Linked DNA regions of Homo sapiens. The protein of the gene in region 2 interacts with the protein of the main gene of each other region in a biochemical or structural test. Each region holds a gene or a part of one and is shown on either strand. Other genes may lie near its edges.

Region 1 (11,183 bases), on a different chromosome or scaffold from region 2:
AAGATACAGAATTAGAAGCCAAAAAAAAAACGGGTAATCTACATTTGTAAACTAATGAAAGGTTAGACAATCTGCTGAAATAATAGAGATTATGAATAAGATTGTAGCTTCATGAGATTACCTATAGAGAATATTAATGTTGACTAGAAACTGTGGAACAAATATATAAATCTTGACATGAGGGAAATACATCTTTACTGTCTAAAACTGGATTAAATTTAATTATAATTTTATTAGAACATATTCTCATTAGGTATGAGGCTAATATATATTCTATATATTCTCAGTATTTGCTCATAAACACAGTATAATCTGACAAAGACATTTTTTAAAGTTCAGAGTTTTATTTTTAGTCTTATAGAATTGATAACAACATGTCTTCCAAATTTGAATGTTGATAAATATTAAATATCTGTGGCGATAATCCTTTAAATCCTTGAGAATGTTTATAGAAAATTCAAAGCTATTATATTTCATTAAAAAAAAGTAAAACTAGTCTTCCCCATTGCTCACTATCCTTATAACAAAACAATTGAAAATATTAGAATTGAAAAAGTATTCTCCTGGATTAATCTGTAATTTTACAATGTAATTTTGGAGAACAACAGATACTGTCCATCAACAGAGATCAGTTCTTAAACCAAAAGCACAAATATTCATACTCCTTATAGTCCAAATTCCTTTTTTTTCTACTAAGTAACCAACTTCTGGCTTTAGATGTCTATTACTATTATCAGATACTTAATTTCTTTTACTTCCCTTTCATTGCATAGTTTTGGTTCAATCATAAGTATCACTGTCAAGGAAAAGAAAATAAGTGTAGCTATTACTTTATTTCATATTATGTGAAACCATCTTTTTTAAGATTAGTTCAGCATTTTTGGGCTTCTTTGTGGTCTTTATATTTTACTACAACTATTTTTTAAAGCCTTTTTTTCTATAAACTTAAAGAAGAAAAGATTTTTCTTAAAGTGTACAATTCAGTGGTTTTTAGTATTTCATAAGGTTATGAACTATCACCACTACCTAATTCCAGGACATTTTCATCACCCAAAGATTTTTAAGAGGATTAAACAAAAATTCTTAACTTAATAGATACAAATAAAATGTATAAGTGATAACGATAAGTCTAAGTTCATGTTGAATAGGACACAATAGAATTTAGTTACAATATCAACAGTGTCTCAAAAACAGACAAAATTAATTAAATGAACACTGAATTTTCAGTCAAGACATCAGGCTGTTAATCCCTCTCCCACTAATAATAAGCAATGTAACATTGAGCAGGTCAGTTAAAAACTTACTGCATTCCATTACATGATGTGGAGTCAGACAGACCTGGGTTCAAATATCAGTTCCACCACTTAATTATGGGCAAGTTAATTTCTCTAAGCCTCAGTTTCCTCATTTATAAAATAAGGATAGAAATAGACCAACTCTCAGAAGGACAGGGCAAAGATTAAATAATAGCATAATGTACTGAGCACTGGCACATGGCAAGCACTGAATAAACATTAACTACTTGTTTTAATCCCTTGATTTCCTAATCTTTGAAATGAGGGATCATCTTTAAGATCTCACTAGCTCTAAATTCTGTGATTTTATAGTCTTTTGGTAATTCCAACCAGCTACATGGACAGTGAAAAGATGTTTTGGTCTTAAGACCAAAATCAAATCACCAAAAGATTATAAAATCACCAATTGTGTTTAACAGCACATAAACACAGTTTTTTTTTAATTTTCCTGGCTAGAAATGCAATTCACTACAGAGATTTCAGAAAATAAATACAAGTTAAAAAGAAAAAAATAAACATTAGTAGTAGTCCTGGTACCCAGAGATAATAACTGTAGAATCATGCTTTTTTTTTCACTTATTCTATTTTGAGCATTTTCTCATGGTCTTAAATGTTTTTTAAACATAATTTTTTTATTATTTTATTTTATTATTTTACTTTTTTGAGACAGGGTCTCACTCTGTCACCGAGGCTGGAGTCCAATGGCATGATCACAGCTCACTGCAGCCTTGACCTCTCAGGCCCAAGCGATCCTCTTACCTCAGCCTCCCAAAGTACTGGGATTACAGGTGAGCCACCATGCCCAGCCTAAAACTTGATTTTTAATTGGCTACCTAACATTATATTGTATAGATGCATCATACGTTAGTTAACTTGTCTTATTTTGCTGAACATTTAGGTTGCACACAATTTTTTACTATCATAAATAATGCTTTTATGAATATCTTTAGAAGTAAATTTTTATTATACCTTTTTTTTTTTTTTTTTTTTTTTTGAGACGGACTTTCGCTCTTGTTGCCCAGGCCGGAGTACAATGGCGCCAGCTCGGCTCACCGCAACCTCCGCCTCCCGGGTTCAAGCAATTCTCCTGCCTCAGCCTCCCGAGTAGCTGGGATTACAGGCATGTGCCACCACCCTGGCTAATTTCATATTTTTAGTAGAGACAGGGTTTCTCCATGTTGGTCAGGCTGGTCTCAAACTCCCGACCTCAGGTGATCCACCCGCCTTGGCCTCCCAAAGTGCTGGGATTACAGGAGTGAGCCATGGTACCCGGCCATATTATACAATTCTAATTATTTCCTTAGGAAAAATTCCTGAAAGTAGGATGTAATGAGATAAAGATTTTTAAGGAATTTGATTCACATTGTTAAATTGCCCTTCAGTAATGTTGACCACATTATATTTGGGCTACGATTATTTTTTAATGCTATTATGGTAAATAAAGATGTTATAAGCATCAAGTGGAGAAGCACAGACTTTGAAGACAAGGTTGCTTTTGAATTCAAACTTTAACATTTATCATGTAATCTTAAGTAACTCTGCAAACCTCAGATTTCCCACATATAATATAGAATTTGACTACTTACCTTATGAGTTGTAAAGTCTAAGAGATAGGTGTAAGATATATAACTGTCATCACATGTATTAGGCACCCAAATGGACAACATTATGACTTTGTTAAGTATATAAAGCCATATTAAAGTTACTAAATTTCCTCTAATCCAATGGTCTTAATTGTAAGAGTTACTATTATTTTATGAACTACTAAGAAAGAACAAACGCTGTCAATTAAACTCTAATACACTATCTATTATAAATAATATATTGATTTCGGAGAAGTTAAAATGTAAAAAGATGTGTATCTGAGAATTGAAATACTTTGTACAAAAGAGAAACAGATTTTTAATTGTCCAAAATTCAGCTGCTATATACAATTTTAAAAGCCTACCAAATGTCAGCACCTATATTACAGTGTTTATTGTTAGACATTACTTTTGCCAATCCAGTGTCAATAAAAACCTTTAAACTTACCCCAAGAAAAATTCTGAATAAGCCAATGGCCAAAGAGAAAACATACATGGAGCTATGAATAGACATTGCTTCTATCATCCAGTACACTTTAATCATCTGAATAGAATCACAGAATGATAGTTTCACAGCTAAAGGGGTTCTTAAAGATTGCTTCATTTAACATACATGGAAAATAAGATCGAGAGAGGCTAAATGGCTAGTTAACATGTCACACTACTAATTTATTGGGAGAGTCAAAACGAGATTCCAGGCTTACTGATTCCCAGTCCAGGGTATTTTAAAATTTTAAACATCAATCAATTCCTAGTTTTAACTAAACATATTTGCCTTAAAAATCTGGTTTTCAAGAAAAATCTGGCCAGGCGCGGTGGCTCACACCTGTAATCCCAGTACTTTGGGAGACTGAGGCAGGAGGATCACCTGAGGTCAGGAGTTCGAGACCAGCCTGGCCAATGTGGTGAAACCCCATCTCTACTAAAAATACAAAAATTAACTGGGCATGGTGGTACACACCTGTAGTCTCAGCTACTCGGGAGGCTGAGGCAGGAGAATCACTTGAACCCGGGAGGAGAAGGTTGCAGTGAGGTGAGATCACGCCACTGCACTCTAGCCTGGGTGACAGGGCAAGACTCCACCCCCCCCCCCCAAAAAAAAAAAAAAGAAAAATTTGTATTGAATATGACAATTTAGGGTCATCAAGTTCTTGAAATTGTCAATCACTAGATGTTTATTGATTATCTACTATGTGTGGACATATGCTGTCCTGAAAGCTTTCAGAGAGATTTAGCTACTTAGGACTTTTGATTTGAGGTTTATGATTAGGAGAACAGGGGCTTGCTTTGGCAGCTATTATATTTCTTTAATTCTAAGATATAAATTCTTTCTTGACACCTCTGAAAACTTATAAATGGCAGAATCTTACACTCTCTGTCATCCAGGTGGCAGTTAAGACATGGTTGTCTACCTATACGTATATTGTTTGATATTTCAGTTGGCATGATGGCAATTCCTTGATGTTTCAGTCAACACCACTTGAGGACTATTTGAGAAAGAAACATAACTCCAGATTACTGTCTAAAAATCTTCTGTTGAAACCTTCTGGTAAAGCCAAGAAAGTGCCATTATCAATCAGTATACTGACTTGGAAGAAAATCCCAGAGACAGTTGTGGAGAAATGCTATAAATTCAGAGGTTCGGGCCGGGCGCGGTGGCTCACACCTGTAATCTCAGCACTTTGGGAGGCCAAGGCGGGTGGATCACCTGAGGTCAGGAGTTTGAGACCAGCCTGACCAACATGGAGAAACACCGTCTCTACTAAAAATACAAAATTAGCCGGGTGTGGTGGCACATGCCCGTGATCCCAGCTTCTCGGGAGGCTGAGGCAGAAGAATTGCTTGAACCTGGGAGGCACAGGTTGTGGTAAGCCAAGATGGCACCATTGCACTCCAGCCTGGGCAACAAGAGTGAAACTCTGTTTCAAAAAAAAAGAAAAAACAACTCAGAGATTTCCCAATTTTTTGGTCTCGAAATCCCCATATATGCTTAAAAATTATTGAGGATCCCAAAAAACTCTTGCTTATACAGATTGTATCTACTGATATTTGTCATTTTTGATATTAAAACTGATATATTTTTAAAATATTTTTTTCATTTAGAAGTAGCCACAATGAACTCATTAGATGTTAACACATTTTAATAGAAAATAATTACTTTAAAAACAAAAATTGAGAAGGGTGGCAGTATTTTACATATTTTGTAAATCTCAATATAAAAGAAAGCAGCTGAATTCCTATATCTACTTTTGTATTCAATCTGTTGAGATATCACAAATCATGTAACTTCCAGAAAATGCCATCATACTCTTGTGAGAGAATGAGAGTGATAAAGGCAAACAATGCCCTAGTATTATTATGAAAATAGCTTTAACTTTGGGGGCTCTCTGAAAGGGACTTGGAGAACTTCAGAGGCCCCCAAATCTGGCTTTGAGAACCATTTACTGTAACAATGCTTTTGATGGCACAGAGGATAACTGTGCAGAAAAAAAAAAAAGGAATACCAACAACTCTAAATCAAAAAGTGATTCAGAAGAGCTGGATTCTAAATGTGAAAAACTTTTAGGAATACCTTAATCAATTTATTTTGCCTAAAATTTCCTCCTTATATATACACGAGTGTTATCTGATCAAATAATCTATGCCTAAATAAGTCTAAAAGAGCTCTTTCAATAGCTATAAAAATTCTGAGTGATAGGAAAACCAGGTATCATAACTTTATTGACAATGTTGTTCTTTTTTGTTGTGGTACATAAAATATTAGTATATCTTATAACTGATGGTACCAGAGATACAAGTAAAAACAGTAAATTATTAATATCATCAGTAAGAGAAAGGTTAAAACCGTACAGTATTCCCTTCATGAGGAGAAATTTGGATGCTGCAGGGATTTTTAACCACAAGTAATGATGGGACTAAATAAACCAACTAAAATACCTAAGGAAAATGTTTTAAATGGGAAATATTTAATTTGGCATTATACATTTTTAGAATGATGTTCTTATTAAATGGAATATTGAAACATCTTTGATTTATTTTATAGTAGAATATTGTTTTTATAAGTAATATTTTTATTTGAAAAGTTGACATTCTTTATCCTTCAATTTTTTTCTCATAGCCTTATTACACAATATCCTTCAGTGTTGAAATTGGGATTTTTAGGCTTAAAATATTATATCATAAACCTTAAATATACAGCAGGTATATTTCAGGTTTTTCTTTTCTTGAGACAGGGACTCGCTATGTTACCCAGGCTGGTTTCAAACTCCTAGGCCAAAGCAATCCTCTTTCCTCAGCCTCCCAAATAGTGGGGACTTAGGCACACATTACTACATGCCTCAGGAGTTTTTATAATAGAAATTACACTTCACCTTTAATCATTTGTAGCATCTATGAATGCAAAAAGAAACAAAAACAGAGAATAACTAATTACTAAATATAGTATTCAGCATTCTAACTCACTTACCTGGACTATTTTTGATGAATGATCTGCATGATTTAAAGTGGTTCTATCAGCATCTGGATCAGACTCCGTCTGCCTCAGGGAAGCATGTTTTTTCTTAGCAAGGTCTAGATCTCTACTATATGAGTATCCAAGTTTAGAAGTAGGAGATAAACTTGTTTTTTTGATAGGAGATTCTGGATCTGATCTGCATTCTAAGGATCTGGAATTCTCTAATTTTTCTTTCTCCAAGTTACTACCGATGTCTAGAGTTTGAAGCTTTTGTTCATCTGTCTCCTCACAAATAAAGGGTGGAGACATATCCTTCTTCTTATCACTAACATATAAGTCACTCAATTCTAAAGTCTCAGCTTTCAATAGTCTCTTTTTGCCTAACAAAACCTGTGCTTGGGTTGAATCTGTATTGGAACATATTCCAGGGTCATCAGATCCTGAAGTCCTTCCAGAGCTCTGCTGAGACTTCTGGGGTTCTGTGTCACTTTTAGTCCTGCGACAGTAAGGGGAGGCTGTGCTTGGACTAAGGTGATCATCAGGAGTTTGATGCTCACTTTCTGACTCTCCAACCCCGCTATCATTTACAAATACAGAGTCATCCTGTGATAAGAAGTCTACTGCTCCGCTGATAGGCTGTTGTAGTTCAGGCTCCCGCTTCAGATCACTAAGCTCTGCATAGAATTTTTCTTGATCAACAGAACTGTTTGTATCTGTTTCATAGTTTCCAACTTTATATGTGCTTTTACTGCTGTTTTCCTCTATCTGAACGACATTTAGTTCTTGGCCACTGAAATGTGCCCTTATTTGATAGAGATAAGTCATAACAGTCAGTTTATCAGGAATTGCTAATAATACCATATCAGAAGGTTCCAATAATCGGGAAATTCCTATGCTGGCAAATCCATCGTATGCCTTCAAAGGAAGGAAAAACAAAAGATATATTGAACAGTTCATATAATTCACACATTTTAAAAAGAGCACATTTTTAATTTTTGTTGTTTGGGTACATGTTATCGACATTATGTCACATGAAAAGAACAAATTTCCAAAAGTCAGACATGTGTAAAAGTGGGGGGAGAGGCAAGAGAAAAAAGTGTAATAAATAAGAATTAAAATATTTTTTCCAATAAATGAAACAAGCAAAAATGAGAGTTAAATTTTTTAAAACTCTGAGAATGGATTTTTAAGATAAGGAACTAAAGTATAAAGAAACATTAGACTAATCCATATTGAGCTTTATCATTTCTATCAACCTCTCTTTTCCACAGTCATGTAATTGCAGTGATTTGTGAAGAAAAGCACAGCTAGATAAGTCAAAAGAACTACTAGATTACCTGATATAAAATACAAATAAATGCAATTTAAGCCTAGAAACAGAAACATTTTTAAATGCTCAATTAAGACTGATTTTCATAATGAAAAGAGTGACTTCATTTAATTCATTCATTTTGGAAAGAATGAAATGTTTTGAGTACTACAACCTAGTTGAGAATGTGAGGCTGCATTGTATTATTTTTGTTAGCCTTTAAATGACTGTGGCACATCAGGTTTTTCTAGTTTTGAATAATCTAAGCTGTTTCTCAATTTACAATTAATTATTACTATCCTGAACTAACCCTTGAAAACAGCATTGTGTTGCTAGGAAGCATTAAAAGTATGGCTAAAGGTTTAGATATACTCTCAGAGAAAGTAAGAACCGTCTAGATATATTCTTGCTCTGGGATGTAAAATGTTTACTCTTTTTAGCAACCTAGATTAAGGATTATAATTCAAAGTTTTTCTTAAAAGACATGTTAGGAAATTATGTAACAATTGAGAATGAATCAGTCTTCTGTACTTACTTGTTAAAGTACATTGCTATGTTTGAATTTAATCTTTGTCTCATATTCTTGTAGTTTAACAAACATTATGGAACAAGTAAGAAAGAAAATGAAAAATAAATTGTGATATTAAAACCTCTTCAATTTTCACAGCACTAGGCTTCATAATATAGGTACCTCAAAATATTTACTAGAGAGAATGACTCAGTTGGTGTGCATGTATAGGCTTGGTTTGTTATTTTACATGTTTTAGGAAAATTGAAGTCATTTTCCTTTTCATGTGTCTTGACAACTTGACTGACAGGCATCAATTGCAGGCCATCAGGGAAAGCACCACAGGCAGTATTCTAAACATTCCCAAATTATCTAAAAACACTGACATATTGGTTAAGATCAGATGTCACAGGAAAATGCCTTTTTTTATTCAGCACTTTTTACAGACCCAGGAAAATGATTAGCTTCCTTGTGGGGAAACTCCTGCTGGTGTTTTGCTTCATGTAGCAATTCATTTTATGTACACTAATTACACTAAAAAAACATTTAAAAACAAACTAGGTTTCTTTTAAGCAAGGTTAAGGCTTTATAAAGGACTTTTCCCATAGGTTAACCTCTTCTGCCATGGTCAACTAACTACCTACTGTTTTTCACCTGTTTGTGTGAGGTGAAAAAAGAGGTCTTTCTAAGAAAATTATCTTATTCATTTGTAGATGTTATTAAATTGGTAAGGAGGAGTTACTGCCAGTTATGTTATGCATCTGTATGAAATTTAAGACACAGGCATTGTTTTCCTATGGTGCTTTAAGTCCATTCAAGGGCACATGGGTTATTGGGAAGAAATGTGTGAAGCTAGAAGTAATTTGCAGGTAGCAACTCAATGTAGCTATCAGGTAAGAAGTAGCAAATGATGAAAGGAAAGACTATGTAAAAACAATTATTTATTGAATAATACAATGAATAGAATCATCAAAGATAAAGCCTTTCAAAAGCCATGATTGTCTGTACTGGAAGATTTAATTGAAAAAAAATTTTAATGGGACAGTCTTCTGTATGGAGTAATATGTAAATCCAAAGTATGCTTACCATTATTAAGTTAATGAAAAGCTAATGTAAAGAAGTGTGACTTAAGCCTTACTGAGATTCCCTATATTCTTTACACATTTATAATGAGGTAAAATCAACAATATTTCTTTTTCAAAATTTTGAACAGTAAGTTGAAACATCCACTTTAAAAAATGGTTTATTTTATAATGCTCATGTCTGTATTTAAATTGGCTTACCACTTTGTTCAAATGTAAGAAAATGGAGGTAAAGCACTGCCACACCCAAAGATATAATTTAATTGTAATTAATGAAAAAGAAGCATTTCACTTTAATAGACACAGGCTCTCCAAAATTATACAAGAATTAATTCATGAGAACAGTTTACTTTGTAACATGCCCATCCAAAGGGTAATTTCTGTAAGAAAACTATACTGATTTTTAAAGATTATCTTTTTTTTGGTGGCATATTTCAATAGAGACTGCCAGGTTTTTATTGCTCTACGGCCAGCATTATGCATTTGTGAAAAAACAACCATTTTTTTGTTTGTTTGTTTGTTTTTGGACACAGGGTCTTGCTCTGTCACCCAGGCTGGAAAGCAGTGGCATGATGCTAGCTCACTGCAGCCTCGGGCTCCTAGGCTCCAGCGATTCTCCCACCTCATCCTCCCAAGTAGCTGGGACTACAGGTGCATGCCACCATGCTGAGCTAACATTTTCATTTTTTGTAGAGATGGGGTCTTGCTACATTCCCCAGGCTGAAGAAACAAAATCTTTTTGATAGCAATACACATTTTTGGTTTTAGAGAGCAATACAAGTGAAAAATTGTTTTGATTTAAAGACTTGTTAATTGAACTTCTATCAAGGTCCCAAGACTTTGTATCACTAGTAATTTTAATTATTTAATTTAAAGTATGTTAAAAACTTTAGACTAGAGGTTATTAACCACTTTGTCTCATGAACCCTTTTGGCAATGGGTCCCTTCTCAGAATAATGTTTTACATGGATAAAATACATAGAATTACAAAAGACATCAATTATACTGAAAAATACACCTATGAAAGTATTACTTAAAATGAATTTGGGAAGTAGTAATATATGTGCTTTTTATGACTGCACTAATTATTTTGAAGAAGTTATAAGTGTAAAAGGTATTTGCAGATATCTGCAGCAACAACTATAGCATGACATGAAAATATCGAAAATATCTGTGATTTCTAAAGGTGACAAAGTCTCAGGCATGGTTAACACTATGGTGGTTTATTGCCTAAATTCATAATTGAAGGAAATGCTAAATTTCAGATGAGGAATTATGAAAGTAAAATGTATTTTTTCCCTCAACCATGTTCAAGGACACCCTGATTTCTACCCACAGTTCACAGGTTAAGAACTCCTGTTCTAAGACAATAATAAATTTCATTAATTTTTCAGTTGAAGAATTCAATTCAGTAGAAAAAAGCATTCAGTGCCTACTGTGTGCTGAGTTAGGTGCTTCCCTCTTTGCACACAGAATGCACATACTGTGTGCTGGGGTAAACAGATAAGTCAGCCTGTGGCCACAGTTAGCTGGCCCAGGGCTCCAGCAACTCAGCCTTACACAGATGCCCTGAAAGCTGAAAGGATCGATATCCCCTTGCCCCATACCAGTTGGGAAGTTCTGATCTCAATATATTGATTAATTATGTGGGAAAATATAGTCATGTGTTGCTTAACAATGGGGATATATGCTGAGAAATGCATTGTCAGGAGATTTTGTTGTTGTGCAAACATCACAGTGGGTACTTACACAAACCTAGATGGTACAGCCTACTACATACCTAGGCTATACCTAAGCTACAAAGCTGCACAGCATATTCCTATACTGAATAGTGTAGGTAATTGTAACACAATGGTATTTGTGTATCTAAACATAGAAAAGGTACAGTAAAAATGAGGTATTATAATCTTACGGTACATCACCATCTATGTGGTCTGTTTTTGACCAAAATG
Region 2 (11,183 bases):
ATTTTTAGTAGAGACGGGGTTTCGCCGTCTTAGCCAGGCAGGTCTTGAACTCCTGACCTCGTGATCCACCCACCTCGGCCTCCCAAAGTGTTGGGATTACAGGCATGAGCCACCGCCCAGCCTATTTTCTGCTGCTTTTAAACTGTGGGACCTTAGGCAAGCCACTTAACCTCTCTTTGCCTCAGTTTTCTTACCTGCAAAATGGGAATAATGGGCTGGGCGCAGTGGTTCACGCCTGTAATCCCAGCAGTTTGAGAGGCCAAGGTGGGCAGATTACCTGAGGTCAGGAGTTCGAGACCAGCCTGGGCAACATGGTGAAACCCTGTCTATACTAAAAATACAAAAATTAGCTGGGTGTGGTGGTGCTTGCCTGTAATCCCACCTACTCGGGAGGCTGAGGCAGAAGAATTGCTTGAACCCAGGAGGTGGAGGTTGCAGTGAGCCGAGCTCATGACACTGCACTCCAGCCTGGGCGATAGAGTGAGACTTGGTCTCAAAAATAAACAAACAGAAAAACAAAACACACACACACACACACACACACACACACACACACACACACACACACTGGGAATAATAATACTAGCGGCCTCATAGTTGTCCTAAAGGTTAAATTAGTTAAAACATACAAAGCACTTAGAAGGTGCACACTTGTGTGTGCACACAGTAGGCGCTATGGAAGTGCCAACAATGCCTGTTTTCGCTGGGTGAGTGCCGTTGTGGGCCCAAGGTTCCTTTTTGCCACGTCTCCCATCCCACACTGACTCAACCTCTCTCCCTTCTTCCCTCCCCGCCCCATGAGACACACTTTCCGAATCTGGGCCAGTATGTGTGTTTGTGGAGACACCGGGAGGGAGGGGGGGCTCCAGTTGCTGTCCCTCCAGTGACTTGGCCCTTCCTCCCCCAAAACAACGGCCCCCAACCCCATCCCGGTCCCTGCGTTGCCCGCAAGGAGGCTGCTTCCTCTCAGGCAGGATGGGTGCAAGCACCAGCTCCCCGGAGGAGCATAGGGGCCCATGGGACTCCTCTTCTGTCGCCTCTTACCTGTGTGTCTTGAGTAAGTCCCCTAACTTCTCTCTCTTTTTTTTTTTTTGAGACGGAGTTTCGCTCTTGTTGCCCAGGCTGGAGTGCAGTGGCAGGACCTTGGCTCACTGCAACCTCCGCCTCCTGGGTTCAAGTGATTCTCCTGCCTCAGCCTCCCGAATAGCTGGGATTACAGGTGCCCACCACCACACCCAGCTAATTTTTTTGTATTTTTAGTGGAGACGGGGTTTCACTATGTTGGTCAGGCTGGTCTCGAACTCCTGACCTCAGGTGATCCACCCGCCTCAGCCTCCCAAAGTGCTGGGATTGCAGGCGTGAGCCACCACGCCTAGCTAGTCCCCTAACTTCTCTGTGCCTCAGTTTCCTCATCTGGAAAATGGGGTCAGAACAGTGCCCACCTCCTGGGGTTGTTGTGAAGAGTCACTGAGTGAGCTCTAGCTGGAGGGCATGAAGTCAGTAAATCAGGGCTAGCTCCTTGTTCTGCCAGTTAACTCTTCGTCCTCCGGGTTCCCACTCTGCCTTCCCTCCTCCTGGAAGTCCTCCTTGACCCCCAGGCTGGGGGTTGGGTCAGGCACTGGCCCTGGGCTCCCACAGCTCCCTGGATCCCCCTGCCCACCCTGGGCTGACCACTCAGGGGCCAGGTCTGTGTCCCCAGTGGGCTGAGAGATGTAAGGACAAAGCTGAAACTGCCTCAGCCTCCACACACACAGCAGGGACCACAGAGGGTGCTTCCCAGTGGGTGACATCACCATGACTTGCTGAGTGCTTACCGTACATCCAGCACTGTTTTTAAAAAAACAGTTTCATTGAGGATTAACGTACACGCCATAAAAACTCAACCATTATGGCCGGGCTCAGTGGCTCATGCCTGTAATCTCAGCACTTTGGGAGGCTGAGGTGGGCGGATAATGAGGTCAAGAGATGGAGACCATCCTGGCCAACATGGTGAAAACCCATCTCTACTAAAAATACAGAAATTAGCTGGGTGTGGTGGCACCTGTAATCCCAGCTACTCGGGAGGCTGAGGCAGGAGAATTGCTTGAACTCGAGAGGCAGAGGTTGCAGTGACCTGAGATCGCGCCACTGCACTCCAACCTGGGCGACAGCGAGACTCCGTCTGAAAAAAAAAAAAAAAAAAAAGCTCAACCATTTTTTTTTTTAAAGAGACAAGGTCTTGCTCTGTCTGCAGGCTGGAGTGCAATGACGCAATCATGGCTCACTGCAGCCTCCAACTGCTGGGCTCAAGTGATCCTCTTGCTTCCTCCTCCTGAGTAGCTGAGACTACAGATGCATGCCAACATGTGTGGATAATTTTTTATTTTATTTTTTTCTGTAGAGACAGGGTCTTGTCATCTTGCCCAGGCTGGTCTCAAACTCCCAGGCTCAAGCGATCCTCCTGCCTCTACCTCCCAAAGTGCTGGGATTACAGGTGTGAGCCACTCTGTCTGGCCACTTCCATCATTTTTAAATGTACAGTTCAATGCCAGGCATTATTTTAAGCTCTTTATATATATTAGCTCATTTATATTCTTTTAATCTTCACAACAGTCTTTTTTTTTTTTTGAGACAGAGTCTCACTCTGTCGCCCAGACTGGAGTGCAGTGATGCTATCTCGGCTCACTGCAACCTCTGCCTCCCAGGCTCAAGCGATTCTCGTGCCTCAGCCTTCTGAATATGTGGGACCATAGGCATGAGCCACCAACACCGGGCTAATTTTTTTGTATTTTTAGGGCTAGGCTGGTCTTGAACTCCTGGCCTCAATTGATCTGCCCACTTCAGCCTCCCAAAGTGCTGGGATTACAGGTTTGAGCCATCACACCTGGCTTCACAACAGTCCTATGATTTGCATTTTACAGAAAAGAAAACACAAGTTCAGAGAGGTTAAGCTACTTGCCTAAGGTCACACAGTGGATGGGGGCAGAGGAGGGACTCAACTCCAGGTCTTCCAGACAGCTAAGTCAGGGGGTCTCAATCGCTTCTCTCTGCTCTCCTCAGCATTGCTTGTTGGTGAATAAATGAGTGAAGAAGCAAAGGTGAGAATGAGTGGATGAAGGAGTGAATGAGGAAATGAATGGTGAAAGGAATGAATGAATGAGCATGGGAACCCATGGCTGGGATGGGTGCTTCATAAGAGCAAGAATCTTGTCTGTGTGTTCTCTGCGGTATCCCAGGCTCCCAGGACAGGGCTTGGCACACATGAGACTCTCAGTAAGTATTGCTAAATAAATGCAAAATATTTAACTTCTCAGCCTGGCCAACATGGTGAAACCCCGTCTCTACTAAAAATACAGAAATTAGCCAGGGTGGTGGTGCATGCCTGTAATCCCAGCTACTCGGGAGGCTGAGGCAGGAGAATTGCTTGAACCTGGGAGGTGGAGGTGGAGGTTGCAGTGAGCCACATTCATGCCACTGCACTCCAGCCTGGGCGACAGAGTGAGACTCTGTCTCAAAAAAAAAAAAAAAAAAAAAAAAAAAAAAAAAAAAAATTATCATCTGCTATGGCAAGAGCACAGCTATCCAGCATGAACTCTAGTTGCTGGATCGTGGGGAGATACAACAGGTCCTGGGGAGGAGCTGGGGTGATAGAGGCATGTGGCAGGCTTGGGGGTTCCATAGAAGCACAGGGGGATCTCTTAGCAAACATGTCAGTATTTTTAACAACCTATATGTACATACCGACGCACACCTGTAATAACTGCTTAATGAATGAGCAAATGAAAAAATGGAGGCCGTGAGGCTGGGCGCGGTGGCCCACGCCTGTAATCCCAACATTTTGGAGGCTGAGGCAGGAGGATCAGTTGAGCTCAGGAGTTTGAGACTAGCCCGGCAGCCCGGGTAACATAGTGAGATCCCATCTCTACTCAAAAAAAAAAAAAAAAAAAAAAATTAGCCAGGTGTGGTGATGCGCGCCTGCAGTCCCAGCTACTAGGGAGGCTGAGGTGGGAGGATCACCTGAGCTCCGGGAAGCAGAGGTTGCAGGGAGGCGTGATCCCGCCATTGTGCTCGAGCAAAGGAAAAGGGGGATGATTGCCCCCTGTAGCCAGATGGCTTGAGGGGCTGGGGCCAGAGCGAGGGGGGAAATTCTGGGCACTGGAGAGCCAGAGCAGTAGTGCCCACTGAGGGCCTTGGCTATTTTGCCCAGACAGGATTTGGACAGCCAACAACGTGAACATCTTTACAGTCCAATATGCAAGAGAATGGGATACTACTGAGAATGGCTGGAGGGTGGGGGTCTGATTTCTGCCCCTTGCGCCCCTGTCTCTCCACTCCCACTCCAGGCTACGACTTCCCGGCCGTGCTGCGCTGGTTCGCGGAGCGCGTGGACCTCATCATCCTGCTCTTTGATGCGCACAAGCTGGAGATCTCGGACGAGTTCTCAGAGGCCATCGGCGCGTTGCGGGGCCATGAGGACAAGATCCGCGTGGTGCTCAACAAGGCCGACATGGTGGAGACGCAGCAGCTGATGCGCGTCTACGGCGCGCTCATGTGGGCGCTGGGCAAGGTGGTGGGCACGCCCGAGGTGCTGCGCGTCTACATCGGCTCCTTCTGGTCCCAGCCCCTCCTCGTGCCCGACAACCGGCGCCTCTTCGAGCTGGAGGAGCAGGACCTCTTCCGCGACATCCAGGGCCTGCCCCGGCACGCAGCCTTGCGCAAGCTCAACGACCTGGTGAAGAGGGCCCGGCTGGTGCGAGTGAGTAGTCCTGAGGGCTGGGCGCGCATTCTTGGAGGAGGTTTCCTCGGTCCTCTCCTACCAGTGCTGTGAGTCCCTGACTTATCAGGGCCCAGGTTAGTTAGTTCTCTTGAAGTTGGGTCATTCTGGCACAGAGTGAAGCCGGGAGGAAGAACTGTATGGAGAGACTCATTCCTCTGCCTTTGGATTTCTGTGTCAACTCCGTGTCACCCTGGCTTCTCTGTCCTGGTATTTCTATTTCTTCTTCCTCTTCCTCCTCCTCCTCCTTCTCTTCTTCTTCTTCCTCTTTTTCTTCTTTCTTCTCTCTTTCCTCCTCCTCCTCTTCTTCTCCCTCCTCCTCCTCCTTCTTCTCTTTCTTCCTCCCCTTCCTCCTTCCTTCCTTCCTTCCTCTGTTCCTCTCTCCCTTCCTCCCTCCTCCCTTCCTCCTTCCTTACATCCTCTTTCGTTCCCTCTTCTTCCTTCTTTTTTAAGAGATGGAGTCTCGCTCTCTTGCCCTGGCTGGAATGCAATGATGCAATCACAGCTCACCACAGCCTTGAACTCCTGGGCTCAAGTGATCCTTCCTCCTTAGCCTGCCCCAAGTAGCTGAGACCACAGGCACGTGTCACCACGCCCAGCTAATTTTTTATTTTTTGTAGAGTCGAGGTCTTACTGTGTTGCCCAGGCTGGTCTTGAACTCCTGCCCTCAAGTGATCCTCCCCTTTTGGCCTCCCAAAGTGCTGGGATTGCAGGCATGAGTATGTTGAATTTTTGAACTTCCTATAAAATATAGACAGACAAATACTCATTATTCTACCCTCTTTATTTTTTGATAATTTATAAGATTGTGGTTCAAAGGTTTCCAAGTTCATTGGTTTATTCCACAAATATTTCTTTTTCTTCTTCTTTTCTTTTTTTGAGACGGAGTTTTGCTCTTATTGCCCAGGCTGGAGTGCAATGGCGTGATCTCGGCTCACCACAACCTCCGCCTCCTGAATTCAAGCGATTCTCCTGCCTCAGCCTCCCGAGTAGCTGGGATTACAGGCATTCACCACCATGCCCGGCTAATTGTGTATTTTTAGTAGAGTATTTTTAGTTGGTCAGGCTGGTCTTGAACTCTCAACCTCAGGTGATCCGCTCTCCTTGGCCTCCCAAAGTGCTGGGATTATAGGCGTGAGCCACCGCGCCAGGCCCACAAGTATTTCTGGAATGCTTTCTGTACACATGGTGCTGGGGCTGGGGATGGAGGGAACAGACAAGGTTCCAGCCCTCCTGGGGCTCATCTTTTTTTAAATTTAATTAATTAATTTATTTATAAGCTAGTCAAATTTAGCAGTGGGGGTGGGGAGTTGCATGCCAACTTTACTGACACTAATAAGTTCTGATAACCAAGGCCAGGTGCGGTGGCTCACGCCTGTAATCCCAACACTTTTGGAGGATTGCTTGAGCCCAGGCATTGAAGACCAGCTTGGGCAACATAGTGAGACACCATTTCTATTAAAAAAAAAAAAAAAAGTTCTGATAACCCACTACCATTGGACCAGCCCCGGGGCTTATCTTTTGATGGAGGGAGACAGAATAAGTAAACAGACATAAAATAACAATGAAGGCTGGGTGCGGTGGCTCACGCCTGTAATCCCAACACTTTGGGAGGCCGAGGGGGGAGCAGATCACTTGAGGTCAGGAGTTCGAGACCAGCCTGGTCAAGATGGTGAAACTGCGTCTCTACTAAAAATACAAAAATTAGCCAGGTGTGGTGGCGGGCACCTGTAATCCCAGCTACTTGGGAGGCTGAGGCATGAGAATCACTTGAACCCGGGAGGCAGAGGTTGCAGTGAGCTGAGATTGTACCACTGCACTCCAGCCTAGGCGACAGAACGAGACTCTGTCTCAAAATAAAAAAAAAAAAAAAGATGAATTTATTACATCTTAGGCGCTTCACAGCACCCGTCTCCCATGACTCTTGTTTGATTGTGGCCACAGATTGTCCCCTTCTCTCACTCCTTTCCTCTGTCCTCATCTCCCATTCCCTTCCCAGCGTCCCCTGCACTTCACGCTGGTGGCCTCAGTCCTGTGCACTTGCTGCTCCCTCTTCCTGGAAACCTCTTCTGCCTTCTTCCCCCTCCCACCTGGCCATCCACAAGGCTCACTCCCTCCTCACCCCTTTCAAGACTCTGCTCAAATGCTCCCTTCTCAGGAAGGCTGTCCATGCCCTCCTTTGAATGAATATAACTTCCCCCATATGCGTCCTTCTTTACCCTAACCCTGTTGTCCTTTCCTTTCCTTTCTTCTCCTCTCCTCTCCTTTCTCTCTTTCTCTGTTTCTCTTTCTCTCTTTCTTTCTCTTTCTCTTTCTTTTTCTTTCTTTCTTTTTTTTTTTTTTTGAGACAGGGTCTCCCTCTGTTGCCCAGGCTGGAGTGCAGTGGTGCGATATCAGCTCACTGCAACCTCCACCTCCCGGGTTCAAGCGATTCTCCTGCCTCAGCCTCCTGAGTAGCTGGGGTTACAGGCGTGTGCCACCACACCCAGCTAATTTTTTGTATTTTTAGTGGAGACGGGGTTTCACCATATTGGTCAGGCTGGTCTCGAACTCCCGACCTCAGGTGATCCGCCCGCCTTGGCCTCCCAAAGTGCTGGGATTACAGGCGTAAGCCACCACACCCAGCCAATCAGGGCTCTTTGAATTCCTTCACTGATTTATCCCCAGTGCCCGGAACAGAATTGGTGCTCTGTAAATATTTATTGAATGAATGACATTGAACAAACAGTTGCATTGAACAAAATCTCCTCTATGCCTGGCCTGGTGTTGGGTGGTGCAGGAGACACAACAGTGACCACGATGGTTCCAGTCCTGTCCTGCTGGGGCTCCCAGTCCTAAATAATGAAGGCAGTTCCAGGGCTCAGTCCTCACTGGGGCTCCTGGAGAGGAGACAGATCCATCCCCAGGCACCGATGACCCAGTGTGGTCAGAGCTGGGGCGGGGTAGCTGGGGCAGGCAGAGAGGGCTTCTTTGGAGGAGAGGGCATCTGAGGGGAAATGTCAGTGTTGAACCCAGTGTAGACAGTGTGCTAACTCAATTAGAGGCTGAGGATGTGGCTGAGATCAGAGGTGGTGTGGGCTGTGTCCGGGAATCTGTGCTTTGTCCCTAGGGCACTGGGGAGCCATGAAAAAGTTCGGAGCAGGGAAAGGAGATAATTAGACTCAAGCTACCTTTTGGAGGGTGGATTCAAGGCAGGAGAGTCTAGGAGCCTGGAGACCAGGCAAAAGGCTTGGAGGTTCCTGGATCAGGACAGGCCTTGGGGAGGGAGAGGAGAAAGGAGAGCGCGGGTTTCAGAGCGATTTTGGATGTCAGATGGAACTTTCTCAGGGGGAGGCTGCCAGGGTGGAGGCGGGGCAGGAAGCTGGGCAGGCAGGGAGGCCAAGAAGGTTCTAGGGGGTGGAGGAGCCTGAGGTGTTGGTTTAAGGAGCAGCGAGAGTGGGTGAGTCAGAGCCCCCACCCCCACCCCAGGAATCCTCCTTCGGAGGGAGCGGCCCACTGTGGACCAGGCTGCCACTCCTGGAACCTTCGGAATTCACCTTGCGCTCCTCTGCCCAGGCGGCTCTGCAGTGTCTCTCTCTCTCTTTTTCTGTCTCTATGTCAGTCTCCTTTCTACCTCTCTCTCAGTCTCTTTCTTCTCCATTTTTACTTTTTCTTTTATTCTAACTCCCTTTCCTTTTCTTTCTCGCTCTGCCTCCTCCTGTCTCTCCATCTCTCCCCCGCTCCGCCGCCGCCCTCTCTCTGTCTTCCTCCTGGTCTTGCTTAGACTCCCCCAGGTTCGTTCCCGCGGGTCCCTTGGCGGGAGCTGGAGCACAAGGCCCAGGGACAGAGGGGTGGGTCCGGGCCAGACACCTGGTGCCCCCGCCGGGCTGGGGGCGGCTCCGGAAACCCAGACAAACCCCGGAGTCAGGGACCCAGCCCCGGCCCAGCCCGCCCTCTCACCTTATCTCTTCCTGGCACCTTCCCCTGCTTCCTCTCTGGAAAAGCCATCAGCGCCCTCCCGCCTACCCTCCTTTGGTCCCTACGGAGCCGCCCTTCGGCCCTGCCCCCTGGCTCCATTGGCCCGCTCTCACAGGCCCCGCCCCCAGCCCGGCCACACCCCTGCCCTGATTGGTCCTTCAGACCATTAGGCACTCCCTCCCCCTCTTCCTGCAGGTTCATCCATGGCTCCCCAGTGCCGTTCAGGACACAGGAGCATGGGATTTAGGGTCCGCTGTGACCAAGGCTCACTGCCCCTCCTTTGCCCCGTGTCGCACCCCCACCCCTGCTCCTCACATATGAGTCCGCCACACTTGGTCGTCACCAACAATAGCCATACTGTTAACCTCCCCTCATGCTCTCCTCCAAAGATACCAGGCCTTCCTGGACTCTCTGGGAGGAGGCATTCACCCTCCTCCCAGTGCCTCAGTTTCCCATCTGTACGATGGAGGGTGTGGACGAATCCTCTGGCTCTAAGTCCTTTGGCTGAAGTGATAGCTGTTAGAAGGGGAGATTTTATGATGCTGTGATACGTAAGGCCAAGATCTTGGGAGGGTCTGATTCTATAGACGCCAAGATGCCCTGAACCTTCAGACCACATTCTCTGCAGTGGCCCAGTGACATTCATTCAGCAGTTGCCGATCGCATGTGGTACTCCTCTAGGCTCTGGGGATACAGCAGGGAACACAGATAAATTCCTTTTCTCATAGAATTACTTTTTAGTGGGGAAGCAAACATTAAACAAATCAATGGTTATGAAGAAAAATGAAGCGGAGGAAAGAGGGGCTGGCGAGGGACTATTTTAGAGCGCTCTGAAGGAGAGGAAGGGGTAAGAGGAAGGGGTGAGCCGAGTGGCGATCGGGTGGAAGAGCAGTCCATGCAGTGAGAACAGCATGTGCAAAGGCCCTGGGGCAGCCATGCACTTGATGTGTTTGAACTGAGAGCCTAACGGGGCTGGAGACAGGGTGGTGGTGGAAGGTGGAAGAGATGAAGATTTAGAACCAGTCAGGGACCACCAACGTTCTCAGCAGTCTAAATTTGTGATTCTTTAAAAAAAAAAAAATATATATATATATATATATATACATATATATATAATTTTTTTTTTTTTAGATGGAGTCTCTCTCTATCACCCAGGCTGGAGAGCAGTGGCATGATCTCGGCTCACTGCAACCTCTGCCTCCCAGGTTAAAGTGATTCTTGTGCCTCAGCTTTCCGAGTAGCTGGGACTCCAGGCAGGTGCCACCACACCTGGCTAATTTTTGTATTTTTAGTAGAGATGGGTTCTCACCATGTTGGCCAGGCTGGTCTCGAACTCCTGACCTCAGGTGATCCGCTGGCCTCGGCCTCCCGAAGTGTTGGGATTACAGGCATGAGCCACTGTGCCTGGCCTAAAAGAATTTTTTAACTAGTCTTTTTTATTGAACATTTAAGACCATCTCATGGAAAGGCATTCATACTTTATCAGACATGATTCTCCCACACCTCACCCCACCAGCTCCCAGGGCCTCTTTTCTAGAGGCAACCCCCATAAGTAGTTTCTTGTGTGTCTTTCCAGATATACTGCATTTTTTTTTTTTTTTTTTTTGAGACGGAGTCTCGCTCTGTCGCCTAGGCTGGAGTGCAGTGGCATGATCTCGGCTCACTGCAAGCTCCGCCTCCCGGGTTCACGCCATTCTCCTGCCTCAGCCTCCCGAGTAGCTGGGACTACAGGTGCCTGCCACCACGCCTGGCTAATTTTTTGTATTTTTAGTAGAGGCGGGGTTTCACTGTGTTAGCCAGGATGGTCTCGATCTCCTGACCTCATGATCCGCCTGCCTCTGCCTCCCAAAGTGCTGGGATTACAGGCGTGATATACTGTAATCACGCCCGGCCAATATACTGCATTTTGTAAAAGCATTTATTTATTATTATTTTGTTTTGAGACTGAGTCTCACTCTGTCGCCCAGGCTGGTGCAATGGCACGGTCTCAGCTCACTGCAACCTCCACCTCCCAGGTTCAAGTGATTCTCCTGCCTCAGCTTCCCATGTAGCTTGGATTATAGGTGGGCACCATCAGCCCGGCTAATTTTTGTATTTTTAGTAGAGATAGCATTTCACCATGTTGTCCAGGCTGGTCTCTAACTCCTGACCTCAGGTGATCGACCCGCTTCAGCCTCCCAAAGTGCTGGGATTACAGGCGTGAGCCACCGCGCCTGGCCTATTTATTCATTTTTTTAGAGACAAAGGCTCGCTGTGTCGCCCAGACTGGAGTGCAGTGGCGACATCATAGCTCACTTCAGTCTCAAACCTCTGGGCTCAAGTGATCCTCCCTCCTCAGCCCCGGCAATTCACTGGGACTATAGGCGCGCGCCAGTACACCCAACTAGTTTTAAAATTTTTTTTTAGAGACCAAGTCTTGCTATGTTGCCCAGGCTGGTCTCGAACTTCTGGCCTCAAGTGATCCTCCCCCCTT
Region 3 (9,325 bases), about 37 Mb from region 2:
TTTGTTATTTGTGTTTGGCTTTTAAATACAGATTTTTTTTTTTATGTTGGGGTTCTTGCTTTGTTGCCCAGGCTGGTCCCGAATTCCTGGGCTCAACGGATCCTTCTGCCTTGGCCTCCAAAAGTGCTGGGATTACAGGCGTGAGCTCCTGCTCTCCGCCAATAGTTAAATCTTTTTAGAGTGGTAGAGGACTGACCAGATGAGCCATTGAAACGGAAAGGCAAAAAGCCGGGCGCGGTGGCTCACACCTGTAATCCCAGCACTCTGGGAGGCTGAGGTGGGCGGATCACGAGGTCAGGAGTTCAAGACCAGCCTGACCAACATGGTGAAACCCCGTCTCTACCAAAAATATAAAAAATTAGCCGGGCGAGGTGGCGGGCGCCTGTAGTCCCAGCTACTCGGGAGGCTGAGGCAGGAGAATGGCGTGAACCCCAGGGGGCGGAGCCTGCAGTGAGCCGAGATTGCGCCACTGCACTCCAGCCTGGGCGACAGCGAGACTCCGTCTCAAAAAAAAAAAAAAAAAAAAAAAAATTAGCTGCGCCTGGTGGCACGCACCTGTAATCCCAGCTACTCAGGAGGCTGAGACAGGAGAATCGCTTGAACCCAGGAGGCGGAGGTCGCAGGAGCCGAGATCGCGCCATTGTACTCCAGCCTGGGCAACAGAGTGAGACTCTGTCTCAAAAAAAAAAAAAAAAGAAAAGAAAAGAAAAGAAAAAGAAACGCAAAGGCAGGGAGGGCCTCCCTGAAGAGGTGACATTTGATTTGAGACCTAAAGGTGAGGGAGGGAGACTTGTGGTTATATGGGGAAAAGCACACCAGCTGGGAGGCACAGCAGATGCTAAGGCCCAGAGGTGAGAGCGTGCCTGGTGTGGTACAGAGCAGGGGAGAGCAGGTAGGTGGGGTATCAGGATGGCAATTGTGCAAATCAAGCCATGGCTTTTTTATTTATTTATTTATTTTAATTTTTTTTTAATTTTTTTTTTGAGACGGAGTCTCACTCGCCCAGGCCAGAGTGCAGTGGCGCTATCGCGGCTCACTGCAAGCCCCGCCTCCCGGGTTCACGCCATTCTCCTGCCTCAGCCTCCCGAGTAGCTGGGACTACAGGCGCCCGCCACCGTGCCCGGCCTTTTTTTTTTTTTTTTTTTTTTTTTGAGACAGAGTCTTGCTCTGTCGCCCACGCCCGACCAGGCCATGGCTTTAATAAGATAGGAATGCCGAGCGAAGTGGCTCACACCTGTAATTCCAACATTTTGGGAAGCTGAGGCGGGTGGATCACCTGAGGTGGGGAGTTCGAGACCAGACTAGCCAACATGGTGAAATCCCATCTCTATTAAAAAATACAGGCCGGGCGCAGTGGCTCACGCCTGTAATCCCAGCATTTTGGGAGGCCGTGGCGGGCGGATCACGAGGTCAGGAGATTGAGACCATCCTGGCTAATACGGTGAAACACCGTCTCTACTAAAAATACAAAAAATTAGCCAGGCGTGGTGGCGGGCGCCTGTAGTCCCAGCTACTTGGGAGGCTGAGGCAGGAGAATGGTATGAACCCGGGAGGCGGAGCTTGCAGTGAGCCGAGATCACGCCACTGCACTCCAGCCTGGGCGACAGAGCAAGACTCTTGTCTCAAAAAAAAAAAAAAATTAAGCCAGGCGCGGTGGCTCACGCCGGTAATCCTAGCACTTTGGGAGGCCAAGGCGGGCGGATAATGAGGTCAGGAGTTTGAGACCAGCCTGACCAACATGGTGAAACCCCGTCTCTACTAAAAATAACAATAATTAGTGGGGCATGGTGGCGCACGCCTGTAATCCCAGCTACTCAGCAGGCTGAGGCAGGAGAATCGCTTGAACCTGGGAGGTGGAGGTTGCAGTGAGCCGAAATCGCGCCACTGCACTCCAGCCTGGGCGACAGAGCGAGACTCCGTCTCAAAAAAACAAAAACAAAAACAAAAATTAAGCCAGGCGCAGTGGCTCATGCCTGTAATCCCAGCACTTTGGGAAGCCGAGGCGGGCAGATCATGAGGTCAGGAGTTCGAGACCAGCCTGGCCAACATGGTGAAACCGGTCTCTACTAAAAATACAAAAATTAGCTAGGTGTGGTGATGGGCGCCTGTAATCCCAGCTACTCGGGAGGCTGAGGCAGAAGAATCGCTTGAACCCGGGAGGCGGAGGCTGCAGTGAGCCGAGATCGCACCACTGCACTACTCCAGCCTTGGCGACAGACTGAGACTCCGTCTCAAACAAAACAAACAAACAAACAGACAAAAAAAGCCAGGCGTGATGGTGGGCGACTACGACTATAATCCCAGCTACTCGGGAGGCTGAGGCAGGAGAATTGCCTGAACCTGGGAGGCGGAGGTTGCAGTGAGCCGAGATCGCGACACTGCACTCCAGCCTGGGCTACAGTGAGACTGTCTCAAAAAAAAAAAAAGAAAAAAGAAAAAAGGAAAAAAGAAGCGATGCTAACACGCGCCCTCTAGCGGCTACTGGGGGAACAGACCGTGGAGGTGGGAAGCAAAGGCAACAGCAGAGGACCAGGGCCATGACCCGGGACTGAGGAATGGACTGACACGTGTTACCCACTCCCATTGCAGCACTTCAGTAATGTCCCCAAACAAGCACATAGGCAGCGGCTAGATTCATCTTTTTAATGACATCCTAAAATTCAGAGGAGGGGCCAGCGGGACCTCTGGGCTCAGCGGCTGTGAAGGAGGGACCCGCAACACCCGCTAAGGCAGGTAATTGCAAGAAGGCACTCGCGAGGAGGACTTCAAGCCCCTCTTCTATTTCTTCATATAAAATCAGGGGGATGGGGAAAGCTCCAAGGGCGAGGGAAGCAGAGAGAGTTTCTCTCCCAGCCTATGGAATAAGGAAGAGGTGAGGAAGGGGCGGGTGCTGGGAGCAAGAAACTGCCAAGTCCAGGACCTGCCCTCACACAGACACACACAGCCCGCACCTGCCCTCCCTCTAAAATCTGCATCCGGGGCTGTAAGGAAGCCCCGTGTTCAAGCCCCCATCTCTTCTCCCTTCTAGCTGGTACGAAGTTGGTAATCTGCAGAGAAAGAATGAGGAGGGGCCATCTCAGAAATGGGGAGAGGGGGGCCGGGCACGGTGACTCACGCTTATAATCCCAGCACTTTGGGAGGTCGAGGCAGGTGGATCACTTGAGGTCAGGGGTTCGAGACCAGCCTGGCCAACATGGTGAAACCCCATGTCTATTAAAAATACAAAAATTAGCTGGGTATGATGGTGCACACCTGTAATCCCAGCTACTAGGGAGGCTGAGGCAGAAGAATTGCTTGAACCCAGGAGGTGGAGGTTGCAGTGAGCTGAGATTGCGCCACTGCACTCCAGCCTGGGCGACAGAGTGAGATTCCATCTCAAAAAAGAAAAGAAATGGGGAGGGGTGAAGGAAGAGGGACAGCCTCCCACAGCCCCTCAATTCATCCCCTATCCCAGCACTCATGATCAACAAGGCTAAGAATGGGGCTAAACACAGGTACTGTAACCATAGAAACAAGGCAGTTTCCAGGCAGCAGATGGAGGTGCTATATGTTCAGCCCCTTCTCCAAACTCGCGACCACCCTAGAACTGACGCTGACAACTGTCCCTGCTTTTTTTTCCTTTTTTTTTTTTTTTTTTTTTGAGCCAGGGTCTCACTCTTGCCCAGGATGGAGTGCAGTGGTGCAATCACAGCTCACTACAGCCTCGACCTCCTGGGCTCAGGCGATCCTCCCACCTCAGCCTCCTGAGTTGCTGGGACTACAGGTGTGCACATCACACCTGGCTAATTTTTATATTTTTTGTAGTGAAGGGGTTTTGCTGTGTTGCCAAGGCTGGTCTGGAACTCCTGAGCTCAAGCGGTCCTCCCACCTCAGCCTCCCAAAGTGCTGGAATTACAGATGTGAGCCACCACACCCAGCCAACTGCCCCCATTTTAAAGACGTGCAAACCAAGGCCCAGGGTGCCATGACAAGAAGGGGCAGTTTGCTTTCTTTTTCATTTTTTGAGACAGGGTTTCTGTCGACCAGGCAGGAGTGCAGTGGCACGATCTCAGCTCACTGCAACCTCCACCTCCCGGGTTCAAGCAATTCTGCCTCAGCTTCCTGAGTAGCTTGGATTATAGGCATACACCACCACACCCGGCTAATTTTTGTATTTTTAGTAGAAACAGGGTTTCACCATGTTGGCCAGGTTGGTCTCGAACTCCCGGCCTCAAGAGATCCACCCGCCTTGGCCTCCCAAAGTGCTAGGATTACACACCTGAACCATCACACCTGACCCTTGTTGGTTTTCTGAGCCAGAATGTGGTGAAAGCCTCGAGTCCCTACCCACTGCCTTTCCCTCACCCCATTGTCCCCAGGAGCTGGGCTGCCTTACCGCCACTCTGGGTGATGTAGCGAACCCAGGGCAGGGCCTGGTAACCACTTTTCTCAATGATCTTCATGTATCGGACCTGGAAGGGAATGAAAAGAGGTGGTCCAGGATTGCAGGAGGGAGGAGGCCAGGGCCAGGGAGAAAGAGACGGCTTAGGCCAAGCGGCTATGTGGCACAGGCTGGGATCGATGAGGGGATATCACATGGTCTTAGGGGGATGAGGTGGCACAGGCAACGGAATGGTGAATGGCTTTGGAGGTGGAGAAGGGACAGAAGTGAACAAGCCGGTGGGGAACAAGGTGGCACAGGCCGGGGGAGAGGGAGCACAGGCTGTGGGCAGATAAAGGTAACATTGCTCTGGGAAAGACCAGGCAGCCTTCAGAGGAGTGTTGACACAGGCCAGGGGACTGAGGTGACTCGAGCCAAGGGACAGGAGAGAGGGGAACCCACCGAAGTCAAGGGGAGGATCCTCCCTGCCTGCTTCTCTCACCTGGATCCCAGAGACGGTGAAGTAGGGGATCTCAAACTTGACCCCGATGGGGGGCCGGCCCTCCACCTCTTCCTTTTCCACACTGGGGAGGCCAAAGTGGGCTCGCATCAAGTACTCCTTGCCCCCCTGAGGGAACATGGGGGCATCAGGTACACGAGGGTCCGCCTACCCTCCCGAGACCTTCCTTTCAGCAACCCCTGGAGTCAGATCTGCTCACAGCCCATTTCACAGACAGGAAAATAAAGGCTCCTTAGCCTGGGCAACATATTGAGATACCATGTCTACAAAAAGTTTAAAAATTAGCTGGGTGCGGTGGAACATGCCTGCAGTTTCAGCTACTTGGGAGGCTGAGGCAGGAAGATCCCTTGAGTCTGGGAGTTTGAGGCTGCAGTGAGCCATGATCTCACCACTGCACCCCAACCTGGGTGACAGAGACTCACCAGGGAAGATTCTGACTGCAAAACCCAATCAGGGTTTTTTTCTTTTTTTAACTACCATGTCCTGTTTTACAGGCACTGATGATCCACCTCTCCCAAGATCATGGGGACAAACCAAAACCTCTAGTAGCCAAGGGATGTGGGTCACCTCATCCTGCCCATTTCACAGACAGGCAAACTGAGCCTCCTTAAGTGGAAATGGGTTTCCCAAACCCACCCAGCTCAGCAAAGCAATAGTGAGGAAGGTGAACCCAGGGCTGGTTTCCTCAAGACATTGGCAGGGGGATATTTAAATCCACACACTTCCCGTCATGGAAGTTTACACGTCTGTGAAATAGACTGGCCTGGTTTCAAGCTTGATCACTTGCATACATACGTACCTCTCTGATTTACTTGTATTTCTTTTTTCTTTTTTTTTCTTTTTTTTTCTTTTTTTTTTTTTTTGAGATGGAGTCTTACTCTGTCGCCCAGGCTGGAGTGTAGTGGTGCGGTCTTGGCTCACTGCAAGCTCCGCCTCCCAGGTTCACGCCATTCTCCTGCCTCAGCCTCCCGGTAGCTGGGACTACAGGCGCCCGCCACCACGCCCAGCTAATTTTTTTTTTTTTTGTATTTTTAGTAGAGACGGGGTTTCACAGTGTTAGCCAGGATGGTCTCGATCTCCTGACCTCGTAATCTGCCCGCCTCAGCCTCCCAAAGTGCTGGGAATTACAGGCGTGAGCCACTGCGCCTGGCCTTGTATTTCTTTTTTCTAAGTTTTTTTTTTTTTCTTGAGACAGAGTTTCACTCTGTCACCCAGGCTGGAGTGCGGTGGCGTGATCTCAACTCACTGCAACCTCCGCCTCCCGGGTTCAAGTGATTCTCCTGCCTCAGCCTCCTGAGTAGCTGGTACTACAGGCGCACACCCCCATGCCCGGCTAATTTTTTTTTTTTTTTTTTTTTTGAAATGGAGTCTCGCTCTGTCACCCAGGCTGGAGTGCAGTGGCGTGATCTCTGCTCACTGCAAGCTCCACCTCCCGAGTTCAGGCCATTCTCCTGCCTCAGCCTCCCAAATAGCTGGGACTACAGGCGCCTGCAACCACGCCCGGCTAATTTTTTGTATTTTTAGTAGAGATGGGGTTTCACCATGTTAGCCAGGATGGTCTCGATCTCCTGACCTCGTGATCCGCCCACCTCGGCCTCCCAAAGTGCTGGGATTACAGGCGTGAGCCACCGTGCCCTGCCCTAATTTTTGTATTTTTAGTAGAGACGGGTTTTCACCATGTTGGCCAGGCTGGTCTTGAACTTCTGACCTCAGGTGATCTGCCCGCTTCAGCCTCCCAAAGTGCTGGGATTACAGGTATGAGCCACCATGTCTGGCCTTTTAATCTTTTTTTTTTTTTTTTGAGACGGAGTCTCGTTCTGTTGCCCAGGCTGGAGTGTGCAGTGGCACAATCTCAGCTCACTGCAACCTCTGCCTCCCGGGTTCAAGCAATTCTCCTGCCTCAGTGTCCCGAGTGGCTGGGATTACAGGCATGCGCCACCACACCCAGCTAATTTTTGTACTTTTACTAGAGACGGATGTTAGCCGTCTCTATGTTAGCCAGGCTGGGATTTCAGGCGTGAGCCACTGCGCCCAGCTCCTCTTAATATTTTTATAGAGGCAGGGTCTCACTGTGTTCCCCAGGCTGGTCTCCAGCTCCTGGGTTCAAGCGATCTGCCCGTGTCAGCCTCTCAAAGTACTGGCATTCCAGTCATGAGCCATCACACCTGACTGGGTCTCTGATTTGTTCTCTGCCTTGTTCTCATGGCTCCTGGGCAGCCCCCACACTACTCCAGTCCCCTCCACCCCCAGATCCCCCGCCAGTCCCTGGTACTTACCGGGAAAGACTTAATACTCCAAATCACGACGTTTCTCTCCGGCACATACTTGGCGCTGCCCACACTGGTCTTGAATCTGGGGGAGTCGGCATCGCTGGGTACAGGCACAGATATCTCCACACCGTTGGCCACTGACTGTTTCTTAAACTGCCCCTTGGCCTGTCAGGGGAGCGAGCATGGGGCACGAAGAATTCGCTTGCTCATCCTTCAAATATTTACCAAGCCCTTTTTTTTTTTTTTTTTTTTTTTTTTTTGAGACGGAGTCTCACTCTGTCGCCCAGGCTGGAGTGCAGTGGCGCGATCTCGGCTGGCTGTAAGCTCCGCCTCCCAGGTTCACGCCATTCTCCTACCTCAGCCTCCTGAGCAGCTGGGACTACAGGCACCCGCCAGCACGCCCAGCTAATTTTTTTTGTATTCTTAGTAGAGACGGGGTTTCAGCATGTTAGCCAGGATGTTCTCGATCTCCTGACCTCGTGATCCGCCCACCCCGGCCTCTCAAAGTGCTGGGATTACAGGCGTGAGCCACCATGCTTGGCCTTTTTTTTTTTTTTTTTTTTTAGACGGAGTCTCTCTCTGTCACCCAGGCTGGAGTGCAGTGGCACAATCTCCGCTCACGGCAACCTCCGCCTCCTGGGTTCAAGCAATTCTCCTGCCTCAGCCTCCCAAGTAGGTGGGATTACAGGCATGTGCCACCACGCCCTGCTAATTTTGTATTTTTAGTAGAGACAGCGTTTCTCCATGTTGGTCAGGCTGGTCTGGAACGCCTGACCTCAGGTGATCCTACTGCCTCCGCCTCCCAACATGCTGGGATTACAGGTATGAACCACTGCACCCAGCCTGAAGGGGTCATTTTGAATCAGGCAAAGGTGTATGGTGCTGTCCACATGGAAGGCACCAAGAACAGGGCTTCTCGAGCCTCATGGGTGTGGGCCTGAGTTCTAACAGTTGTTGGCTGTGTATCTGCAGGCAAATGCCTTAACTTCTGTGTGCCTCAGTTTCCTCATCTGTAAAATGGACAGGATAAGGGTCCCCACCTTAGGATTGTGGAGGCCTGGGCTGAGAGGGCATATGAAAGGCTTGTTGAAAAAAGCCGGGGGTGGTGGGCCACACCTGTAATCCCAGCACTTGGGGAGATGGAGGCAGGCGTGGCGGCAGGAGCCTGTAATCCCAGCTGCTCGGGAGGCTGAGGTAGGAGAATGGCATGAACCCAGGAGGCAGAGGTTGCGGTGAGCTGAGATCACACCACTGCACTCCAGCCCGAGTGACAGAGGGAGACTCTTTCTCAAAAAACAAACGAACAAACAAACAAAAAAACCCTTCAGTCCATCACAGGAGAGTTATTATTTTATTTGATAACAGATTTTTTTTTTCTTTTTTCTTTTTGGAGATGGGGTCTAGCTCTGTCATCCAGGCTAGAGTCCTTGTCTCACTACAACCTCCTCCTCCTGGACTCAAGCAATCCTCCCACCTCAGCCTCCCAACTAACTGGCACTACAGGCACTCACCACTTTACCAGGCTAATTTTTGTATTTTTTGTAGAAACAGGGTTTCGCCCTGTTGCCCAGGCTGGTCTCAAAGTCCTGGGCTTAAGTGATCTAACCACCCCGGCCTCCCAAAGTGCTGGGATTACAGGTGTGAGCCACCGCACCCACCCGAGATCATGCATTGTTAATAAGCATTCCCCCAAGGCCCACCTTGACCATGATCTCCACGCGGCTGTGGGAGAACTTCTCAATGACAGACTCAATCCAGATCAGTGGCTTGACCTGTGGGAAGAAGAAGGGGAGAGTTCTTGGAGACTCCATGTTGACTCTCTTCTTTTTTTTTTTTTTTTTTTCTTTCTTTGAGACAGAGTCTCGCTTCTTCGCCCAGGCTGAAGTGCCATGGCGTGATCTTGGCTCACTGCAACCTGCACCTCCTGGACTAAAGCAATTCTCGGCCGGGAGCGGTGGCTCACGCCTGTAATCCCAGCACTTTGGGAGGCCAAGGTGGGCGGATCACGAGGTCAGGAGATCGAGACCATCCTGGCTAACACGGCGAAACCCCGTCTCTACTAAAAATGCAAAAAATTAGCTGGACACGGTGGCATGCGCCTATAGTCCCAGCTACTCGGGACGCTGAGGCAGGAGAATGGCGTGAACCTGGGAGGCGGAGCTTGCAGTGAGCCGA

What was found.
Region 1: the proteins of EHD2 (region 2) and EHBP1 form a complex in vitro, tested with the Homo sapiens proteins (one study listed by BioGRID).
Region 3: the proteins of EHD2 (region 2) and AP1M2 form a complex in vitro, tested with the Homo sapiens proteins (one study listed by BioGRID).

Annotation. Positions count from the first base shown.
Region 1 is NC_000002.12:62,944,324-62,955,506, reverse strand, and holds part of EHBP1 (EH domain-binding protein 1), read right to left. Parts: intron 7,248-11,183; coding exon 6,345-7,247; intron 1-6,344. UniProt on the Homo sapiens protein: May play a role in actin reorganization. Links clathrin-mediated endocytosis to the actin cytoskeleton. May act as Rab effector protein and play a role in vesicle trafficking.
Region 2 is NC_000019.10:47,721,490-47,732,672, forward strand, and holds part of EHD2 (EH domain-containing protein 2), read left to right. Parts: intron 1-4,322; coding exon 4,323-4,735; intron 4,736-7,434; exon of another isoform or gene 7,435-7,632; intron 7,633-7,923; exon of another isoform or gene 7,924-8,022; intron 8,023-11,183. UniProt on the Homo sapiens protein: ATP- and membrane-binding protein that controls membrane reorganization/tubulation upon ATP hydrolysis. Plays a role in membrane trafficking between the plasma membrane and endosomes. Important for the internalization of GLUT4.
Region 3 is NC_000019.10:10,570,042-10,579,366, forward strand, and holds the end of AP1M2 (AP-1 complex subunit mu-2), read right to left. Parts: intron 8,923-9,325; coding exon 8,851-8,922; intron 7,316-8,850; coding exon 7,157-7,315; intron 4,989-7,156; coding exon 4,863-4,988; intron 4,452-4,862; coding exon 4,376-4,451; intron 3,048-4,375; coding exon 3,025-3,047; 3' UTR 2,630-3,024; downstream 1-2,629. UniProt on the Homo sapiens protein: Subunit of clathrin-associated adaptor protein complex 1 that plays a role in protein sorting in the trans-Golgi network (TGN) and endosomes.